Linked DNA regions of Homo sapiens. The protein of the gene in region 1 purifies or fractionates together with the protein of each later gene. This does not show direct contact. Each region holds a gene or a part of one and is shown on either strand. Other genes may lie near its edges.

Region 1 (10,507 bases):
GGCACAAAAGAAAACAATATGACTAAGAACTATCAGAAAAAACAGACAACAGAAATAACCTGTACAGACTTTGAAACTGGCATTGTATGATACAGATTTTAAAAGTAGTATTTATATCTAAAGAAAAAAGAAACTATAGAAAGTCACCAGATTTGATGAAAAACTCATCAGAATTTCTAGAAATTATGACCAAAATAAACAAAATTAAAAGTTCATTGAAAGCTCATTAAATGTGTGCACACCAAAAACAGGATCCCAAAATACATGGAGTAGAAACTGATAGAGCTGAAAGGCAAAATAGACAAATTCGCAATTATAGGTAGAGATTTCAACACCCCACAATTGCCAATTACTACTGCTAGACAGAACTACTGGACAGAAAATCAGCAAGGATATAGAAATAAAGACACTCAACAACAGCATCAAATTGATGTGTAACAGAACTCTCCATCATCCAACAACAGCAGAATATATATTTTTTTCAAGCACCTATGGAATATTCACTAAGATAGGTCATATTCTGAGCTATAAAACAATCCTGAAAATGTATGAAACAAAAGTTGAAAGTACTAAAAAGAAAAACGGAAAATCCACAATCATAGTGAGAGATTTTAACATGCCTCTGTTTATAACTAATAAAAGAGGCAGACAAAAAAATCAGAACATAGATTTAAGCAAAACAATTAGTAATCTTGACTGAATGGACAGAACATTACATTTGACAACCATAGAATATGCATTCTTTTTAAGCACACGTAGGACATTTACCAAAACTCACCATATACTAGGACATCAAATATCAACACATTTCACAAGATTGAATCAATATAGAGTATATTCTCTGACTGCAGTGCAACTAAGCTAGAAATCAATAACAAAAGATAACCAAAAATCACAATATGTTTGGTAATTAAGAAAAATACTTCTAAATAAGTCATGGATCAAAACAGACATCATAATGGAAATTAGAAAATGCTTTGAACTGAATGATCATGAAAACACTACATATCAAAATTTGTGGGATTGTTTAGAGGGCAATTTTATAGCCTGAACTGTATATAGTAGGAAATAAGGATGTGAGGGTGATCTGGCTGAGACATCTGTCACCCCACTGATTGCCAGAGTTGATTCGGCTGATCTGGCTGCCTAGACGGGTTCCCCTTCCTCCCTCACCGCTCCATGTGCATCCCTCCCAAAGCTGCGTGCTCGGCTGAAGAGGATGACCATCCCCGATAGAGGAGGACCGGTCTTCAGTCAAGGGTATACAAGTAGCTGCACTCCTCTGCTAGAACCTCCAAACAAGTTCTCAAGGAAAGAAGGCAGACTGCAAATTAATTAGTTAGGCATACATCACAAGAAGTTAGAAAAAGAATAGCAAAATAACACCAATAGAGTAGAAGGATAGAATTATTTAAAATAAGACCAGAAATTAGTGAAACAGAAAGCAAAGCTTCAGTAGAGAAAACTAATATGCCAGAAGTTGGTTCTTTGAAAAGAACCAACTAATGAAATGACAAGCCTCTAGCAATATTGCCCAAGGAAAAAGAAAGAAGTCACAACCAACATTAGGAATGAAAATGGGCATCACTGCAGATGGTGCAGATAAAAGACATTAAACAGATAAAAGAATATCATACCGTCTGGTCCGTGCGCGATCACAGCCCGTCGCGTGGCTCGGGCTTGGGCAGAGCTGGAGACGCGTGGAGCTGTTCGAGGACTCGCAGTGCACATATGATATGTGTTTTAGAAATAGCTGTTAAACTTTTGTTTGAATGAAGAATGTCTCTCAATCCACCTATATTTCTCAAATGAAGTGAAGAAAATAATTCAAACTTTGTGGAAACAAAACAGTCACAAACTACTTCCATAGCTTCAGATGATATGTGTTTTAGAAATAGCTGTTAAACTTTTGTTTGAATGAAGAATGTCTCTCAATCCACCTATATTTCTCAAATGAAGTGAAGAAAATAATTCAAACTTTGTGGAAACAAAACAGTCACAAACTACTTCCATAGCTTCAGAAGATCCCCTTCAAAACTTATGTTTAGCATCTCAAGAAGTTCTTCAAAAAGCTCAGCAAAGTGGGAGATCAAAATGTCTCAAATGTGGTGGTTCCAGAATGTTCTACTGCTCTACATGTTACATTCCAGTTGAAAATGTACCTATTGAACAGATTCCACTTGTGAAACTTCCATTGAAGATTGACATCATTAAACATCCAAATGAAACAGATGGTAAAAGTACTGCTATACATGCAAAACTCTTAGCACCTGAATTTGCAAACATTTACACGTTTTCTTGTATTCCAGAATATGAAGAAAAGGACCATGAAGTTGCACTTGTTTTTCCTGGACCTCAGTCTATCTCAATAAAAGATATTTCTTTTCATCTGCAAAAAAGGATTCAAAATAATGTTAGCAGCAAAAATGATGACCCTGACAAGTCATCTTTTAAACGCAAAAGAACTGAAGAACAAGCGTTCTGTGATTTGAATGACAGCAAGTGCAAAGGCACAACACTGAAAAAAATTATATTTATAGATAGCACCTGGAACCAAACAAACAAAATATTCACTGATGAGCGACTTCAAGGTAAAAAATATATATATATTTTTTTGGACTGCTCCTCCCTCCAACTTATTTTGAAAAAACTTCAAACTTACAGATAATTTGAAAGAAGAGTTGCATTGAATACCTATATATTTTGCCACATTTACTTTATTTCTCTATTTCTCTTTATTATATATGTGAGCTTGTATTTATATATTATATATATTTTTTGTTGACCAATTGAAAGTAAGTTTCAGGCTTTGTAACACTTCACCCTTAAATATTAAGTGTACATTTTCTTTTCTTTTTTTTTTTTTTTTTTTTTTTTTGAGACAGTCCCACTCTGTTGCCCAGGCTGGAGTGCAATGGTGCAATCTTGACTCACTGCAACCTCCTCCTCCTGGGTTCAAGTGATCCACCCACCTCAGCCTCCCAAGTAGCTGGGATTACAGGTGCCCACCACCACACCTGCCTAAATTTTGTATTTTTAGCAGAGACAGGGATTTGCCACGTTGGCCAGGCTGCTCTCAAATTCCTGACCTCAGGTGATCCTCCTGCCTTGGCCTCCCAAAGTGCTGGGATTACAGGCATGAGCTATCATGTCCGGCCTAAGTGTACATTTTCTAAGAATAAGAATATTCTCTTATATTAATAAAGAATGACATCTCTTTTATAAACACCCCAATGGTGAACACATTTACTAAGAAGTTAGATCTTCTCTTTTGTTTTTTGCCTTACATGTGGTTTTTTTTTCTTTTTTTTTTTTTTTTTTTTTTTTGAGAGGGAGTCTTGCTCTGTTGCCTAGGCTCACAGTGGCGTAATCTCGGCTCACTGCAACCTCTGCCTCCTGGGCTCAGGCGATTCTCCTGCCTCAGCCTTGCTAGCAGCTGGGATTACAGGCACACACCATTATGCCCAGCTAATTTTTTTGTATTTTCATAGAGACAGGTTTCACCATGTTGGCCAAGCTGGTTTCAAACTCCTGACCTCAGGTGATCCCCCCACCCCGGCCTCCCAAAGTGCTGGGATTACAGGCATGAGCCACCGCACCCAGCCTGCCTTACAGTTTTTAAAAATAACTTTATTGAGGAAGAATTAACATATAATAAACTACGTATGTTTCAAGAGTATTAAAGTTGTCTCATATGTGTACAGCCGTGAGACCATCACTACAAGTTAGAAAATGAACATATCCAACCCCTGCCAAAGTTTCTGCCTGACTTTTATCATCTTTCTCATCCAGCTTTCCCCACAGCACACTTCCACGCTCTCCAACCCCATCTCTAATCAATGATCTATATCTACTTATTATAGATTAGGTACATTTTCTGGAATATTATATAAATTGAATCATATAGTATGTACTCTTTTCCTTTTTTTGGTTTGGCTTTCTCACACAAAATAAATAACTTGACACTCATTTTTGTTGTAGCATGTATCCATAGGTCATACATTTATTGCCAAGTAGTATTTCGTTGTATGGATATGCTACAATTAGTGTTATCTGTTTATCTGTTGATGGACATTTACACTACTTGTTTCCCATTTTCTACTATTTCAAATAAAGTTGCTATGACACTTGTGTAAAAAAAAAAAAAAGATGTTCTCCTGTATAATAAATACAGTACCATTATCACTCCTAAGAAAATTAATGAAAATTACATATCATCTAATATACTGTCCATATTCAAATTTCCCTAATTGACCCAAAAATACCTCTTGTAGCTTCCCCCCATATAGCATTTAAACTCATCACAATTTGGTTATTCTGTATCTTTAGTCTCTTTTAATCTAGAGTAGTCCTGTTTTTGTTTTTCATGACTTAGACTTTTGTGAAGAGGACAGGTCAATTGTCTGAATGTTTCATTGTGATTAGTTCCAGTCTAAATATGTTGGCTAGGATACTTACAGGTAAGGATAAATCCAGAGTTGTCTATGTCTAGTTTATATCTATTGTTTGGGTATAATTATTAATAACATGTAATTTCACTCTCAGAAATGAACCTTTTAGCTGATAAATTGTATGGTTAACCAATTCATAGGTGAATTCATACTTTATTGTTGTATCAAATTAGGATGCACACAATGCAAATTGTTCTATTATTTGTGATAACTTTCATTGCTTGATTAAAGCGGTGATTGCCAAAAAAAAAAGAATATCACAACTAACTTTATGCCAGTAAATTTCAAATTTTAGATATGATGAATAAAATCCTGGAAAATGTAAGTTGCCAAAATCATAATGAAGAAGTGAAATTCTGAATTATAATCATTAAGGAAATTAAATCAGTAGTCAAAAATTTGACTACTGAGTCTACTCCCACTCAGGATGAGGCACTGGAGATATTTAGCACCTGCCTGAATTCGGGCTGCCAGGTGGCGAGCGTCTGTCTGTATGTGCAACACCACTGCTCTCTCTTATGTAGGAATGTACCAGGTCATCCAGGGTATCATCTCTCCTGTCAGTGACAACACAAATTAAACTCTAGCCTCACAAAACTTCACTGGTGAGTTCTACAAAACACTCAGAAAAAAATGTTATTTCAGGCTGGGCACGGTGGCTCATGGCTGTAATCCCAGCACTTTGGGAGGCCGAGATGGGTGGATCACTTGAGGTCAGGGGTTGGAGACCAGCCTAGCCAACATGGCAAAACCCTGTCTCTACTAAAAATTTAAAAATTGGTCGGGCATGGTGGTGCATGCCTGTAGTCTCAGCTACTCGGGAGGCTGAGATTGCACCACTGCACTCCAGCCTGGGTGACAGAGCAAGACTCTGTCTCAAAAAGAAAGTTATTTCAGTCCTAACACACAAGATCTCTTACAGCATAGAAAGAGAGAACTCTCCAACGCTTTTTATGAGGCTAGCACAACCTTGATACCAAAATCTGATTAGGACAGTGAGAGAAAGGAAAATTATAGACCTGTCTTACTACCTAAAAAACAAATTAGCAAAGTGAACCCACCAGTACACAAGAAAGGTAATATATCTTGGCCAAATAGGGCTTATCTCAGGAATGCAGTGTTAGTTTAGGATTAGAAAATTAATCAATGCAATTTACCATATTAACTAAGTAAAGGAGAAAAAAAATCACACAATCAAGAGTTGCAGAAAAATCATTTAATAAAATTCAATGTTCATTTATGGCAGGCACTCTTAAACTAGGAATAACAGGGAATGTCTCAAAATAACATATTTGTCAAGATAGACTAGGCTAGCTGCAATAATAAATCCTCCAGTTTTAGAAGCTTAACACACAAAAATTTCTCTCTCCCCAGATGAATCCCATGTGGTTTAGACGATCTACAGGGCAGTTATCATGGTTAGTGAGCACAGTCCATGGCTATTTCAAAGTACGCTTTCCCACTCCATCAGCAGCACATTCCTCCCAGGTCAGTGGTGGCCTGTGCGACTAGTCCATCTACAGCCAATACCCACCAACCCTGGTTCACGCTAAAATCCCATCCCTTTGTCCTTCATCCTCAAAATCCCCATTTGGGCTAAGAAACTATATATAATTTTCATCCTCACATAGAGGGCAAAAATAGTGCCCCTGTTAATTCCTATAGAAGGGGAAGTCATGCTGTTCCTCAACTATATCCTGATCCTAACTGTCCTCACTGCTGTATGGGACCCTTGCCTGAGCGCCACCCTCACAGCCTTTGTCTCAGCAGAGAAGCCTTTCTCTCAGTGCTACCCGGGTTGTAGAAGGCTCTAGAGGAGAAGCACATGTTCACTAAGGTAGTGCCTTTACCCTTGCCTAAGGGAGCTACCCTTTCTCCCCCATGAGAGAATGCCAGAGTCTACTACCACTCAGGATGAGGCACTGGAGACATTTAGCACCTGCCTGAATTCAGGCTGCCAGGTGGTGAGCATCTGTCTGTATGTGCAACACCACTGCTCTCTCTTACCTAGGAATGTACCAGGTCATCCAGGGTATCATCTCTCCTGTCAACGACACCTATGGGAAGAAAGACCTCGCAGCTTCTCATCACCGAGTGGCCATGGCCCGGCTGGCCCTGCAGACATCCGACTGGATCCGGGTGGACCCTTGGGAGAGTGAGCAGGCACAGTGGATGGAGACAGTGAAGGTGCTGAGGTAATGGTAGTCACTCTCCTGTGTGATGACCAGGGGCCACGGGAGATGTCTGCAGAGCTTACAGGGTAAAAGGTAGGGCAGATTGTGGGGCTGGGTTTCTGCCAGACCTTCTCAGCAAATATCCAAGAAGCAGTTTCTACTTAGCAGGAGAGAGATCAACAGATTCACATTCTCAGAGAGGTCCCTGAGCAGAAAAATTACAAAACACTGTACTTTCAAATGCACTTTGTGGAAACACCCAACCTTATTTCAGATGACGGTAGCACTGGGGTCTAGTGCCACCACTTAGTAGCTGTGTGACTTTGAGCAAGTGATCTGAAGCCTCTGAGACATATTTCTCACTTGCAAAATGGAGACAACAAAACCGAATGAGGATTTTTTATATGTAAATAACTTTCCTGACCCAGAACTACATAATAATATTCAGTAGGTGGGACCTTTTGTTATTTTTATCATTGTCTAAGTTGAAAACTACATCTATAGAATAAGCTGTCTTTTTTAATTGTACAATTCCTGGGTTCTGTAAACCCAGACTTTTATGTGAAATAGAAAAAAAAGACTATAAATCTAGAAACAGTTACTCTGGATTATTTTTTCTTCTGGAATTTCTATTTGTATTCAGCATAAGTAATAAAACTGTTTAAAACCCCAAGCCAGCCCTGCATGTTAGGGCAGTGGGTCACTAGCTTGTGTCTGCAGACTTTAAGGGGGAATTGCCAGAGAAGCAGGAAGTCCCACCTCTCCTGGCTGTTGGGATTGTGAGTATGGCCTGCCTCATCACTAATGACAACCAGCTCTGCTGGAAGGGATTGCAAATTGCTGTGTCTTTTGTCTATTTAGAACCACTAGGATTGGCAGGAAATGGGAGGCAAAGGGACAAGGTGGAATGACTGACAGGCCTGTTCATAATGTGTTTTAGTTTTCATTTTTAACTTATCTTCAAAATCACTTGGGAGAAAAAGATTTACCTTTTTAGTAGAGGTAATCATTTAGTTTTTATATCCTGGTTCTTATTACTTACCTTTTACTGTGGAAAGAAGCAGCCAGAAGCATTCAGCAGTTACAGTGTTGCTTCAGAACCTGTTGCCAAATTAAAAGGAAAGCCATTATAAAATAATTGTTATGACACATGCTCTTCTTTATTTTTTAATGACCCATTAGTATAAACAAAGACCCTTATATTGAAAATTATATAAGGAATAAATTGACACCTAGATCATCCTTTTAGAATGAGTCATGCAGTCATTTCTCATTTATCTAGGCTAAGAGAGGGGGAATAGAAGCAAGAGAATAGATCATCCAACAAGTAATTTAGCTTTAATATGTAGGCAGAAACAGACGCTTGCTCCTCCACCCAGTGAGAAGCACTGTAGCCTAGGACACAGGTTTTAGAGCAAAATTTACTAGCTGAATTACTTGATATAAGTGATTTAGCCTCCCTGAGTCTCAATTTCTCACCTAATAAAATGGAAATGACATCACCCACTTCACTAGGATTCCGTGTGAATTAAATGAGATGATGTAGGCAAAACACCTGGTTTATGGTAGGTACTTAATAATGTTAGCTACCTTCCCTGAATCCCTAATGCTGGCCCATAATTTGTCCTCAAAACAGATAAGCCATTCATGGATAAATAGGAGTTGACCATAGTACTATTTACGATTACTTGTGCTTCTGCTGCAAAATACAGGAGTGAGCTAAGATTGTACTGAACGCATTCATTTTCTTTTTAATTTTTTTTTTTTGAGATAGGGTCTCAAAAAAAGCTCCATGGTGATTCCAATACATGGCTAGCCCACCACTTCAGCTGCCAAGTTTATTAATTAAGCTCTGTTGCCCAGGCTGGAGTGCAGTGGCATGATCTCGGCTCACTGCAACCTCCACCTCCTGGGTTCAAGCAATTCTCCTGCCTCAGCCTCCCAAGTAGCTGGGATTACAGGCACACACCACCATGCCCAGCTAATTTTTTGTATTTTTAGTAGAGACGGGGGTTCACCATGTTGGCCAGGCTGGTCTCCAACTCCGACCTCAGGCGATCCACCTACCTCAGCCTCCCAAAGTGCTGGGATTACAGGCATGAGTCACCACACCAGGCCTCTTTTTAATTTTTTTTAAATAACTCCTTTATTCTTGTGTTGCTCAGTGTTAGTTTGCACACGGGAATCACCCAGGGAGCTTTTAAAAGTACCCATGTCATTGGTCTGGGTTGGGGCATCAGGATTTTTAAAAGCTACCTGGTGATTCTAATATATGGCTAGCTCACAGCTTCAGCTGCCAAGTATATGAATTAAGCTTATGATCAGTACCAAGATGCATCCAAACCAGTGGTCTCAACTCTGGCTGCAGAAATCACTTAATAAGCTTTTTTAAATGCTCACCTCCTCCCACCCACCCCAGAGATTTTGATTTGTCAGGGGTGGGCTCTAAACATTGCTATTTTCATAAAGGTTCCCATATGTATTTTGTGCAACCAAAATTGAGAATCACTGTTACAGTCAACACAGTTTTATCAAATGCTGATTAAGATTTTTAAAATTATTATTTGGAGTAAGTTTCATCTCCAAAATGTACCAACTGCATTTGTGTTTGATTACTAACACTTTCCGAAAATTATCAAAATCAAAGTTTTTTAAGACTGAAAATCCAGTTATAATTGTAAAGTCAGGTGGTTTTAGAAGCATGGTAGAAATCCACCCCATCTTTTGCTCCATTTAGTGTCCTCTTGATAAAGTCCGTAGTGAATCTGCATCATAGTGACATAGTAACAAACATCTCTATGATGTAAATTCACTGTAGAGCTTACTGAGGATTCCTTCTTTCCCTATAAGATAGTTTGTTCTTTGCAGACATGATCTTGTGTTGTCCTCATTTTACAGATAAAGAAACTGAGGCTCAGAGAGGCTACGTTAATCACGGTCACACACAAATAGGACGTGGAGCTCCCATCTGTGGAGCTCTGAAGCCATGCTTATGGCCATCTTCAAAACAGGGATCTGCAGGCTGGGAACATGATGTGGCTGGCTTTACACCTCCCACAGTTGCCCTCCAATCTTTCCTGAAGACCAGTGGGACTGCTGAGGACACCAAGAACATGCCCCCAGGGTCAATCCACAGGCCCAAGGTACCACTCAGGCAGGCAGCAAGAAGCAGTTAATGGTCATGCCCCATAGAGGCGCAGTGGAAGTCCCTGGCAAATGCATGTTGTATTGGAAGTAATTATTTCCACAACAAAGTTCAGAGATCCAGCTAATATTCAAAGTAGGGTCAACCTGAACTAGGACCTTCAAGGTAAGTAAAATGAGAATCACCACCACCTTTTACTAATCACCCTCTATGTGTGCCAAGCTCTTTCATGTATATCTAGTAAGCTCAGCAACTCCAAGAGGTAGGTGGGTTTAGCCCTATTTTATATATAAGGACATGGAGATTCAGAAAGGGTTGTAAAATACTTCAAGTCCTACAGTTAGAAAGTGGAGGTGAGACTCAATCTACTTCAGTCTGATGTGAGAGCCCATGCCAATCCAAGGGTGAATCCTCAGAAATAAAGTTTACCAAAATCAAAGCAGTAAAACGATAATGAAAACACTGAGTCCAGCCAGGCTCTAAGAAGACTCTGCTGAGTCTCTGAGATGATCTAGAAGGGCTTTGAACCAGGTTAAATGTATTCATTCATCCACTCCTTCCAACATTCCTGAATTCAGCAGACTTAAGGAGCATTTTCATGGGTGCTAGGAATATAAAGATGAATTCCGTGGGGTCCCTTTTCACAATCTGGTGGGAAGATAGACTAAGAGTAATGATAATAACAGCTAACACTTATTGGGCTCTTTCTGTATATGGGCTGGTGCTAAGCGTTTCAA
Region 2 (10,507 bases), on another chromosome or scaffold:
GTGGTGGCATTGCCCTTCTGATGAGAATAAGTAAGAAGATGATTCCTTAGGTTATTGACCATGCCATTGAGACTGAGAAGATGATTGAAAAGTACAGCGGGCTAGCCTCGGACCTGCTCACCTGGATCGAGCAGACCATCACTGTCCTGAACAGCCGCAAGTTTGCCAACTCGCTGACGGGCGTCCAGCAGCAGCTGCAGGCCTTCAGCACCTACCGCACCGTGGAGAAGCCGCCCAAGTAAGGGCCCTGGCACATGGGAGGGTGGTCCTCAGTGGCTGGGAAACTGACCACCAAAAGGTAGAGCCAGGTTCTGGGCCTTATGAAGTGTGTCCACAAGGCACACCCTCAAGATTAGAGAGCTGTATGTGTGTCACCTGCCTTGTGCCCCTCTTCACCACTCTTCTCCCAAGCCATCAGCTTAGAGAAACCAGCATTGATGAGAAACCTCGACTCACGACCAAAGACAGTGGCTTCTCCCAGATATCCCTGAGGAGGAACAGGAGGGAAATCATAGGCTTCTGAGTCTCTTTGAAGAACCCAGGCTGGAAAGCTCCTCTCTGGTCTGCCACTGAGCTGTGGGCTTGTTTTCTGATGACCTCTGTGCTCTCAGCCCCTGAGCTCTCTGCATGGGGCCTTATGGATTGTCAAGTTCATCCTTCTTTTTCTCTCCCATCTGTCACTGCTCAGCAACAGACCACTTAGCCTGCTTCTCAGGACCTCTGCCCCACCCTAGTGTGTGCAGAGCCTGTGTGCATATGCTTACACACATGTGCATGCAAACAACCGTGCACACACATGCATACCTGCATACACATAACCATGCATACACACAACTGTGCACCCATGAACATGCATGCACACACAAACATACACACACAACCGTGCACTCATACACATACACCTAACTATACATGCATTTATGTGTGCACACATAACTATGCACCCATGCACATATATATGCACATACAACCACATGTACAAATGCACATACATATATACAACCATGCATGTGCACATGCACACACAAACATGCACACATACACACATACACACGGGGCATTCCAGCTTATCTGCCATTAGCTTGTCCAGATCCTCTGAAATAGGCTTCTAGCTCATTGATGGTACCTTCTGCTCTGCTCTTCCCCCCATCTCCCACACTCTGCATTCATGACTTTCAAATGGGGAAAGGTGAAATGCTGAGTCTAGGATATACTATAAACAAGTATCTGGTTTCTAGTCTGACAGTAACCCATTTCTGAAGCCCTAAATCCAATACAGTTAGCATCCTCTATGAGTCTACCAGTCACTGCACACAGAGGTGTTATCTCTTGGCTGTGTAGACAGTGCTTCACGGTCACAGTTCTCTTAAGTGCCTGTGAGCACTGAGATCCATTAGGCTGGGCTCAGGGTGGGGACCTTGCATATAGCTGATCCTTGACTGCCAGGTCAAGGATGCAGAAATGGGTGGACACTTAGGTACATGCAGAAATGTGGAAGTACCTGATACCTGGAGCCTGTACCCCATATGCTAGACACCGATCCTGCTGACAATTCTTGTCTCCTACACCTACAAGCCTCTCAGAGCCCAGCCTTTCCTGCCTTCTGGGAAGCATCTGGCCTGTAGGACTTGTCAGGAGATCTGGCTCATTAGGACCTGGGTGAAAGCTGTTTTCAGTGCAGGATGCTCTCCCACGGAATATGCTGCTTCTGGGGTTTTATTGACTCACTTAATAAGGAACTGACCAGAGAGCTAGTAAGAAGCCCTCATCACTTGCAGCACAGAGAAGGTTTTTTAAAATTTTTTTTGTATTGATCCGTACAACTTGATATTTACAGGAATTACCAGAATACCTCAGCTTCCCATGTAGAGGCAAATGATAAATGCTGTGGTGGCCATTGTGTTTTCTCTGGTTTATATTGTAAAGACCCAAACCCCTAATAGATCTCAGTTGGTGAAAAGGATAGATGTTTTAACAGGTAAGCAGACCTACAGATTCTCTTTAGTTTTTCTGTGTTTTTAAGGGAAATATGCTTTGCTATCTACGCTTCAAGATGCCACAGTTCCGTGTTGACTTTAGCAAAAAAATTTGGCCATGAGATCTTAACATCAGTCTTCCTACTTCTGTTTTCTTGACAGGTTTCAAGAGAAGGGGAATCTGGAAGTTCTACTTTTTACCATCCAGTCCCGGATGAGAGCCAACAATCAGAAAGTGTACACACCCCACGATGGGAAACTAGTGTCTGACATCAACAGGGTACCACAGCATTTTCCGTTATGCATTGACAGTAGATTGATTGAATTCCCGATAAGGACACAGTGAATGGTCATTGGACCAGATTAAACCAAGCCACTTTCTTTGATGTTATTAATCCACATGTTGACTATTTGGGGGAGTTATCGAACCTGGTTCTGAGGGGTCAGACTCTACTCCCCCACCCTCCTTCAATCCCCCTGTTCAGATGCCCTGCATCCCTGAGTCCTTTTTTTTTTTTTTTTTTTTTTTTTTTTTTTTTTTGGAGACAGGGTCTCACTCTGTCACCCAGGTGGTAGTGCATTGGCACAATCACAGCTCACTGCAGCCTCGTCCTCCTGGGCTCAAGTGATCCTCCCACCTCAGTCTCAGTAGCTGGGACTACAGGCATGCACCACCACACCTGGCTAAATGTTACATTTTTTATAGAGACAGAGTCTGGCAATGTTGCCTAGGCTGGTTTTGTACTGGGCTCAAACAATCCTCCCACCTTGGCCTCCCAAAGTGCTGAGATTACACGTGTGAGCCATCACACCCAGCCTCCGAGTCCATTTTTTTGGAGCCAGTTTTGTAGCCTATCCTCTGTAGAACCTTGAGTTTGTCTTTGAAGATGGAATATTAACTACTTATAACCAAAGGGAAATGCCTATGACATTTCAGAGGCTTGGAGGCTTACCACCACCTGGCAGTTCATATTGAACGGAGGTAGCCATTAGTCAATAAGAACTTACTGAGCATCCAGAGAGGTGAAAAACATTATTTTGGGCCAAGAGTCTGAGGCAGGTTTAGGGGAAGAGGGAAGTGAGACTCATGAGCAGTGCCCTCTGAATCTTTGATGGGCCCAGACATGAAAGCCAAAGGCTTTTATTGATCTTTAATCTGCTACCACGTCACCCAAGAGCATCAGGCTGTACCTTGATTCCAGAAATCACTCAGTGTTGGGTGAAAGGGGTGGAGCCCCCAAAGTGAGGCATTTCTCCTGTGCCCCAAGAATTCTCATTCCATCCTTTGTGCAGGCCTGGGAAAGCCTGGAGGAAGCTGAGTATCGGCGGGAGCTGGCCCTGAGAAATGAGCTCATTCGGCAGGAGAAGCTAGAGCAACTGGCCCGGCGCTTTGACCGGAAGGCCGCAATGAGAGAGACCTGGCTCAGTGAAAACCAGCGCCTCGTGGCCCAGGTAATGAGGGACATGCTTTGGGTGACAGGAGAGGGGACATTCTTCAGAGCCCCCAGCTCTTGGCTGGGCTGGAGTCCAAGCTGGCTTCTCACAGCCTCTCCTCGTGCCTTGCAGCACAGCTCCCCCGTGATCCAGTGGATCAAGATTTGCATCTGGGGAGGAGCTCTCCAGGATTTATTAAATCTCATTTTTAGGAAAGAGCCTTGGAGTCTAGAACTGGCCGCTGAAGTTGTCTTATGTGGGCCTGTAGTGTCAACTACAGCTGGGGTTTCAGTTGATGTTAAATTGTGGTTCTTGGGGGATATGGTAAAATCACAGACTGCACCTTGTCTGTGTCAGGCATGCCTTTTGGACTCTGGTCTCTGGTGCTGTGACATAATTCTAGCTAAGAATTGACCCCAGGGCTGATTCTTCATCAGAGCATCTGTTCCCTCTCACTTAAAGCTTGGAATCAAATTAGATTCTGTCCAGAAAGGGGGCAACAAGTATTCTGAGAGCACTGGAGAGTGTATGCGCACCCCAGATAGCATGTGAATAAACCATCTGTTTGCTGGTGCATGGGTTTCCGAGTGAGAAGCAGCCCCTTCCTGCCCCAAATCCAACAGGTCCACTCGAGGCATGTGGGGAGTGCCAGCAGGCTGCCAAGGGGCTCCATTAGTAACACGCAGGCTGCATCTCCCACGCGGGTGGCACGGGGAGTAAAATCATGAACTTCTCTTAGAGTCTCTTGTGAGACATTAATTTTTGGAACTTGGGTCTGATAAGACAGGCTGCAAAAGTAAGGCAGAACTAGCTGCTTCTTGGGAATGTGCTTTCCCATCTAGCACTGGTTCTGAAGGGAGCTGCCCTGTCCCTGAGTTTGGGGATGAGCCCCTGGGTGTCTGACTGAGCTGCCTGTTTTTCTCCCGGTGGGGCAGGATAACTTTGGGTATGACCTGGCAGCTGTGGAGGCCGCCAAGAAGAAGCATGAGGCCATCGAGACCGACACGGCTGCCTACGAGGAGCGGGTGAGAGCCCTGGAGGACCTGGCTCAGGAGCTGGAGAAAGAGAACTACCATGACCAGAAGCGCATCACGGCCCGCAAGGACAATATACTGCGCCTATGGAGCTACCTGCAGGAGCTGCTGCAGTCCCGGCGCCAGAGGCTCGAGACCACCCTGGCACTGCAGAAGCTCTTCCAGGACATGCTGCACAGCATCGACTGGATGGATGAGATCAAGGTGGGCCCTGGGGGCCGCCCCCGCCATGCCCTGCAGTGCTCACCTTGGGTCTCAGTGGCCCTGCAGTTAGCATAGGCTTCCTTAGACACCTCCCAGCCAGTCATATCTCTGAGTCAAAATAGAGAAACTGAGGCAGCAAAGTGTCTAGCTGCACCTGCCTCTCTGCCTCTTGGTCCACTCTGCTCCAGCAGGTGATACCAGCCCAGGTCCATGGTACCCTGGTGACCGAGAAATCTTGGGTTTGTGGCAGCACCGGTGCCAACCTTCAGGGCCTTGAAGAGACAGACATTAATCAGGAACCTGGAGAATCAAGCTCTTAGTAATTACAATTTGACTCTGGTTAGAATCCAGACCTCCCAGCATGAGGGCAACCTCTCCTCTCTCTCTGCCGCAGTGGGTCTCAGCTGAGGACACACATCAGACTGCCCCTGGAGCTTTGTGAAAATACACATGGCCAGGCCCCAACCCTGAGACCGATGCAGTAGATGAGTGTGGGGCTTGAGCATCTGTAAGATGTTCTATGGATGATGCTGATGGGCACCCCCAGTAGGCACTCTCCCTCTGGAGCTTCTTCCATCCTCAGCAGCAGCCCTTTTCTGGCTGCATTTGGCTCACCCTTGCTCAGATTACTAGAGACATGCCCTTTGCAGGGGTCTCTTCTCCTAATGTGTAGGTCTCTTCACTTCTCCTCATTTCCTTTCTGCTGTTCTCTTTGCCAGGCTCACCTCTTGTCTGCCGAGTTTGGGAAGCACTTGTTGGAGGTTGAAGACCTGCTACAGAAGCACAAGTTGATGGAAGCTGACATCGCCATCCAAGGGGACAAAGTGAAGGCCATCACCGCAGCCACCCTGAAGTTCACCGAGGGGAAAGGTGAGACCAAGTCTGTCTCCCCTTTTGAGGCTTCCAATGCCAGAGCCTCACCTCTGGCCTAACAACCCAACTTGGATAAATCTCCTGGAACCAACTTTAAAGTTCTGTTACTTTCATCAAGTAATGGTCCAAGAAAGAAGCTTGAGGGACCAGCCAAATTCTCTAGAGAGCAGGCAACTGCTTCGGTAACCTATAATCACCAAGGAGGCACCCTCTGTCCTTCATTCTCCTTGCTAGTTCAAGTTATGGCTGAGACAATTTAGGTTTCCAGATTCTTGTTTTAAATAAGAGACCTCACTGCATCTTTCAAGAATGACCTTGAAATTTTTTTAATTAATTTAAAAATAATTTTATGTTGTACATTTCTATTAAGAACTAACCCCACTTTTTATCTTCCTTAACCCTGAAGTTCAGTGGGAAATAATTATAAAGAATCTGTCCACCCTCTGAGCAACTGGGACCCCCCTGCATCCAACCCCAAAGCCCCAGTGACATGGCAGCTTCAGGGTTGTGTAGTTCCAACCTAGCAGCTTATCTGAAGCGTGCCCATAAATGAAGCCCATCCCCCACTTTGTCCTCCTTCCCCCTATTTCTTCCAGGGTACCAGCCTTGTGACCCCCAGGTCATCCAGGACCGCATCAGCCACTTGGAGCAGTGCTTTGAGGAGCTGAGCAACATGGCAGCTGGGCGGAAGGCCCAACTGGAGCAGTCCAAACGACTCTGGAAGTTCTTCTGGGAGATGGATGAGGCTGAGAGCTGGATCAAGGAGAAGGAGCAGATCTATTCTTCCCTGGACTATGGCAAAGACCTGACCAGTGTGCTCATCTTACAGCGCAAGCACAAGGCCTTTGAGGATGAGCTCCGTGGGCTGGATGCTCACCTGGAGCAGATCTTCCAGGAGGCTCATGGCATGGTTGCGCGCAAGCAGTTTGGGCACCCGCAGATCGAGGCCCGCATAAAGGAGGTGTCGGCACAGTGGGACCAGCTGAAGGACCTGGCTGCCTTCTGCAAGAAGAACCTCCAGGATGCTGAGAACTTTTTCCAGTTCCAGGGCGATGCGGATGACCTGAAGGCTTGGCTGCAAGACGCCCACCGGCTGCTCTCTGGTGAAGATGTGGGGCAGGACGAAGGGGCCACGCGGGCCCTGGGGAAAAAGCACAAGGACTTCCTGGAGGAGCTGGAGGAGAGCCGTGGGGTGATGGAGCACCTGGAGCAGCAGGCCCAGGGATTCCCCGAAGAGTTTCGGGATTCCCCAGATGTGACCCATCGGCTGCAGGCCCTGCGGGAGCTCTACCAACAGGTGGTGGCCCAGGCGGACCTGCGTCAGCAGAGGCTGCAGGAAGCCCTGGACCTGTACACGGTGTTCGGGGAGACAGACGCCTGTGAGCTGTGGATGGGAGAGAAGGAGAAGTGGCTGGCCGAGATGGAAATGCCAGACACCCTGGAGGACCTGGAGGTCGTGCAGCACAGGTCAGAGTTAACTCATCTTTTCCTCACGTCCCTGTACCCAGGCCTGGGCACCATCTCCCACCTAGTTTGGTAATAGTCTCTGGATCAGCAAAGGTCTCTTTGAGAGGCCCTGGGATGTCCTTTGTTGCAAAGTCCTGGCATTAGGAGTCATAAGTTCTATTCTGGCTCTGTGGCCTGGGGTACTTCACCCTTTGGGGCCTTGTGTTCCTCAAACAAAGGGAATTTATCTAGTCCAGTTATTCAATTACTTTTCAGCAATAGCAGTCTTTGCTCAGATGAATTGTGTATGGAACCCCCAGGTCACACAGAGGAAAAATGGAGCTACTCTGGAGAAGGAGGTTGAGAGGCCAGGACCCTGCCAGCTCTAGCTTTCTGTGGCAGTCCTTAAGCCAGGAGACTCTGAGGGGCCACAGAGAGAATTTGCAAACCCCCTGTCTGCAAGGCCACTCTCACCCCTGGTGTTCTGATTTTGTCAGCACCCCAGATGATGAGGCATGCCCCAGTCTGTGCAGCATCTCAGCAGCTGAAGCACAGAATTCAGGCAGTCAGGAGAAGGAGAGGCCGCTCTCTGGAACAGTGCCAAGGTGGTGCTGCACTGATGCTGGAGAGTCCTGGGCTCTTACCCTAGAAGGATCGGCCTTCAGAACCACAAATTCCCCCCGACCACCGCCCCAGCAGCTTTTCCTTATCTTACCCAGGAATGGAGCACCTGGCTGGAAAGGGTATCTTTTGGGTTAAGATGTCAAGGCATTGGACTCAGAGTCCAAAAGCAACAGCCGGAAAAGCAGAGGCCTGGAAGGTGGCCCTTGTGACAATTGACATCCCCCACACAAATACACAGTAACCTCTCTTCAGCCCTCCCTCCCCTTCATATGTCTCTCTTGAGCCAGAAGCCCGTGTAGGAAGTAACTGGCTCTCTCCCGGCCTGTTCCAGGCAATGCTAACTCATGAAATCAAACCCATGAACCAGAAAGGAGGGCCAGCATATCTGTTTTCTTCCTCCTGCCTCACCTGGGCAAATGGTTTAGGCAGTGGAAGGAGAAAGCAAGAGCTACATGTTCTGGAGACTGGGGGTGCCACTGGCAAGGAAATGTCTGCTGCCGCCTCACCCATCCTCATATTTTCCTTTGCCCATATCAGGTTCGACATCCTGGACCAGGAGATGAAGACCTTGATGACTCAGATTGATGGTGTGAACCTCGCTGCCAACAGCTTGGTAGAGAGTGGCCACCCACGCAGCAGGGAGGTGAAGCAGTACCAGGACCATCTGAACACCAGGTGGGGTGTGGGTAGGGCATGGGGCGGGGGCATTGTCTCTCAACATCTGACACACTGCTGGGGGCCGGGCCCAAAATTTAGTCCACCTAGTATGCACCAACACTTCTATACCCTCAACATTCCTGTCTTTTTTTTTTTTTTTTTTTTTTTTTTGACACAGAACCTCACTCTTTTACCCAGGCTGGAGTGCAGTGGTGCGATCTCGGCTCACTGCAACTTCCACCTCCTGGGTTCAAGCTATTCTTGTTCCTCAGCCTCCCAAGTAGCTGGGATTACAGGCGTGCGATACAATGCCTGGCTAGTTTTTGTATTTTTAGTAGAGATGTGGTTTCACCACGTTGGCCAGGCTGGTCTCATTCCTGGCCTCAAGCGATCTGCCCACCTCGGCCTCCCAAAGTGCTGGGATTACAGGCATAAGCCACCGCGCCCCCACCGACATTCCTGTCTGTCTCAGCCACAGTCCCCTTCCCAGTAGTACTGGAACTATAGCAGCAAGGAGGAATGATTGAGGTGGTGAACAGCCCAGGGAGGGAGAGAGACGAGTCCTGGGAGGCTCGAATGCTGTGCCTGGGGAGGGTGGGTGTGTATGTGTGATGGAGGGCACATCCCAAGTGTGCCCAAACTTAGAATCAGGCCATATGCTTCTCATGCTATATTTCCCTGGACATTCTTGGGCAGAGAAAATTGCTTTCTGAGAGCTCTTAAGTACTGTCCATAAAATAATGCTCCTGCCTCTGCCAAATGCAGTATCGATAATGAGGCTGGCTTGAAGGAAGAGGAGAATTAGCAGGGAGCCTTAAGCAAGCTTTGTGGCCAGAACAAAAAATAGGCCCCAAGGAGCCTTTAGAGAGGGGGTGCTTTCAGTGTGGGGTGAAATTGCCCATGAGTTCCTGGAGGATCTTTGAGGACACCGCAAATGCCTGCATTCCCTGTCTTTACCGTGGGCCCTGCACATGCAATGCCACATGTTCACCACCTCCCCATTACCCCAGCCCCTTCCCCACACCTGTGCCTGAGCGTTGCTCTGCCTGAGGCAATCTGGGAGGTGGGCCTAGGGAAGACTCCATTGTAAAGAAAGGGATCGGCACAGTGGAGAGTTCACTGGGGGGCTAAGGGGAGGCAGCGATGACCAGAATTCTTTAGAGCCACTAGAATGGGATGATTGTCTTAGCAGCCCAAGCTGCAGAGTGCGGTTTAGGAGATTCCTTTGTCAATCTGATGTTTTACAAAGGAAGAGAATACCTCTTCCCTCTTCTTTCGCCTTGTAGGTAATGAGTTTGTGTGTGTTGGTGGGCAGGAGGTGGTAGAGATTATTGCAATTGCTGCATAATTGAGGAAACTAGAGCAGGTCTAAACCAGAGAAACTTCCTGAGAGGAAGAACTCATCAGCTCAACAATAAACTATAGTCTGAGAATGTTGATCTTTACAGACCCCTAAAACAGGCCCCATCCCCAAGAGAAAAATATCAAGGTACCTGCCATCCTTAAGTGAGAAAAAAACCCGAGGCATGAAATTAAATTTGAGAGTTGAAAGGAACCTGAGAAGTCACCCAGTCTAGCCAGTGATGGGGAACTCACTCCCTCACCCGGCAGCCTATCTCATTTTTGGGCAATTCTTTTTGGTTAAAAAGTTTGCTCTTCCATTGAGTGGAAATCTGCCTCCTTGAAATGCGTACATATTGATTCTGGCTCTGCCCTTGAGAGATATCACACTTACCCTGGTTCCTCTTCCGTGTATAGCTCTTCAATTATTTTTCAGAACAATGCTCATTCTATACCTCCACCCCCAGTGTCGCCTCATGCCTCTGCGGTTCTTTCCCTCAGGGTGCATTCTCCCTCCCTCTACATATTCCAAATCCTGTCTCTGCATGAGCCAGTCCAAGTCGCTTGCTTTCCAGTTTTCCAGATGAAAAGCAATCTTTTCCTCCTTTGTACTGGTTTTGAGCTTCATATCCTATCTTACATTCTAATTATTTTTGTCCCCAAGGACTTTCCTGCTAGACTATGTAAACAAATGAAGACCTGTATCTATTTATATTGCCCAAGGGCTTTGCACACCTAATACATTTTTGGGGTTCCTGCTGTTTAGAGTATTATTTTCCTAGCTATGCCCTTGGCTTACTCTTTTTATTCAGGTCTCAGCTCAAATGTCAGCTTACTGGCATGGCCCCCGCTGACCGCCCCATGGAAAGCAGCACATCCTTCCTCTCACTGACCCACTTGGCCTCTATATTGTTACCT

What was found.
Region 2: the proteins of NMNAT3 (region 1) and SPTB purify together in Homo sapiens (affinity purification with mass spectrometry; 2 studies listed by BioGRID and IntAct, with this or other methods). This does not show direct contact.

Annotation. Positions count from the first base shown.
Region 1 is NC_000003.12:139,575,011-139,585,517, reverse strand, and holds part of NMNAT3 (nicotinamide/nicotinic acid mononucleotide adenylyltransferase 3), read left to right. Parts: intron 1-2,198; exon of another isoform or gene 2,199-2,309; coding exon of another isoform or gene 2,310-2,591; intron 2,592-6,462; coding exon 6,463-6,646; intron 6,647-7,667; exon of another isoform or gene 7,668-7,726; intron 7,727-9,523; exon of another isoform or gene 9,524-9,935; intron 9,936-10,507. UniProt on the Homo sapiens protein: Catalyzes the formation of NAD(+) from nicotinamide mononucleotide (NMN) and ATP. Can also use the deamidated form; nicotinic acid mononucleotide (NaMN) as substrate with the same efficiency. Can use triazofurin monophosphate (TrMP) as substrate.
Region 2 is NC_000014.9:64,789,478-64,799,984, reverse strand, and holds part of SPTB (spectrin beta chain, erythrocytic), read left to right. Parts: intron 1-50; coding exon 51-238; intron 239-2,138; coding exon 2,139-2,256; intron 2,257-3,269; coding exon 3,270-3,428; intron 3,429-4,345; coding exon 4,346-4,648; intron 4,649-5,367; coding exon 5,368-5,518; intron 5,519-6,117; coding exon 6,118-6,988; intron 6,989-8,128; coding exon 8,129-8,266; intron 8,267-10,507.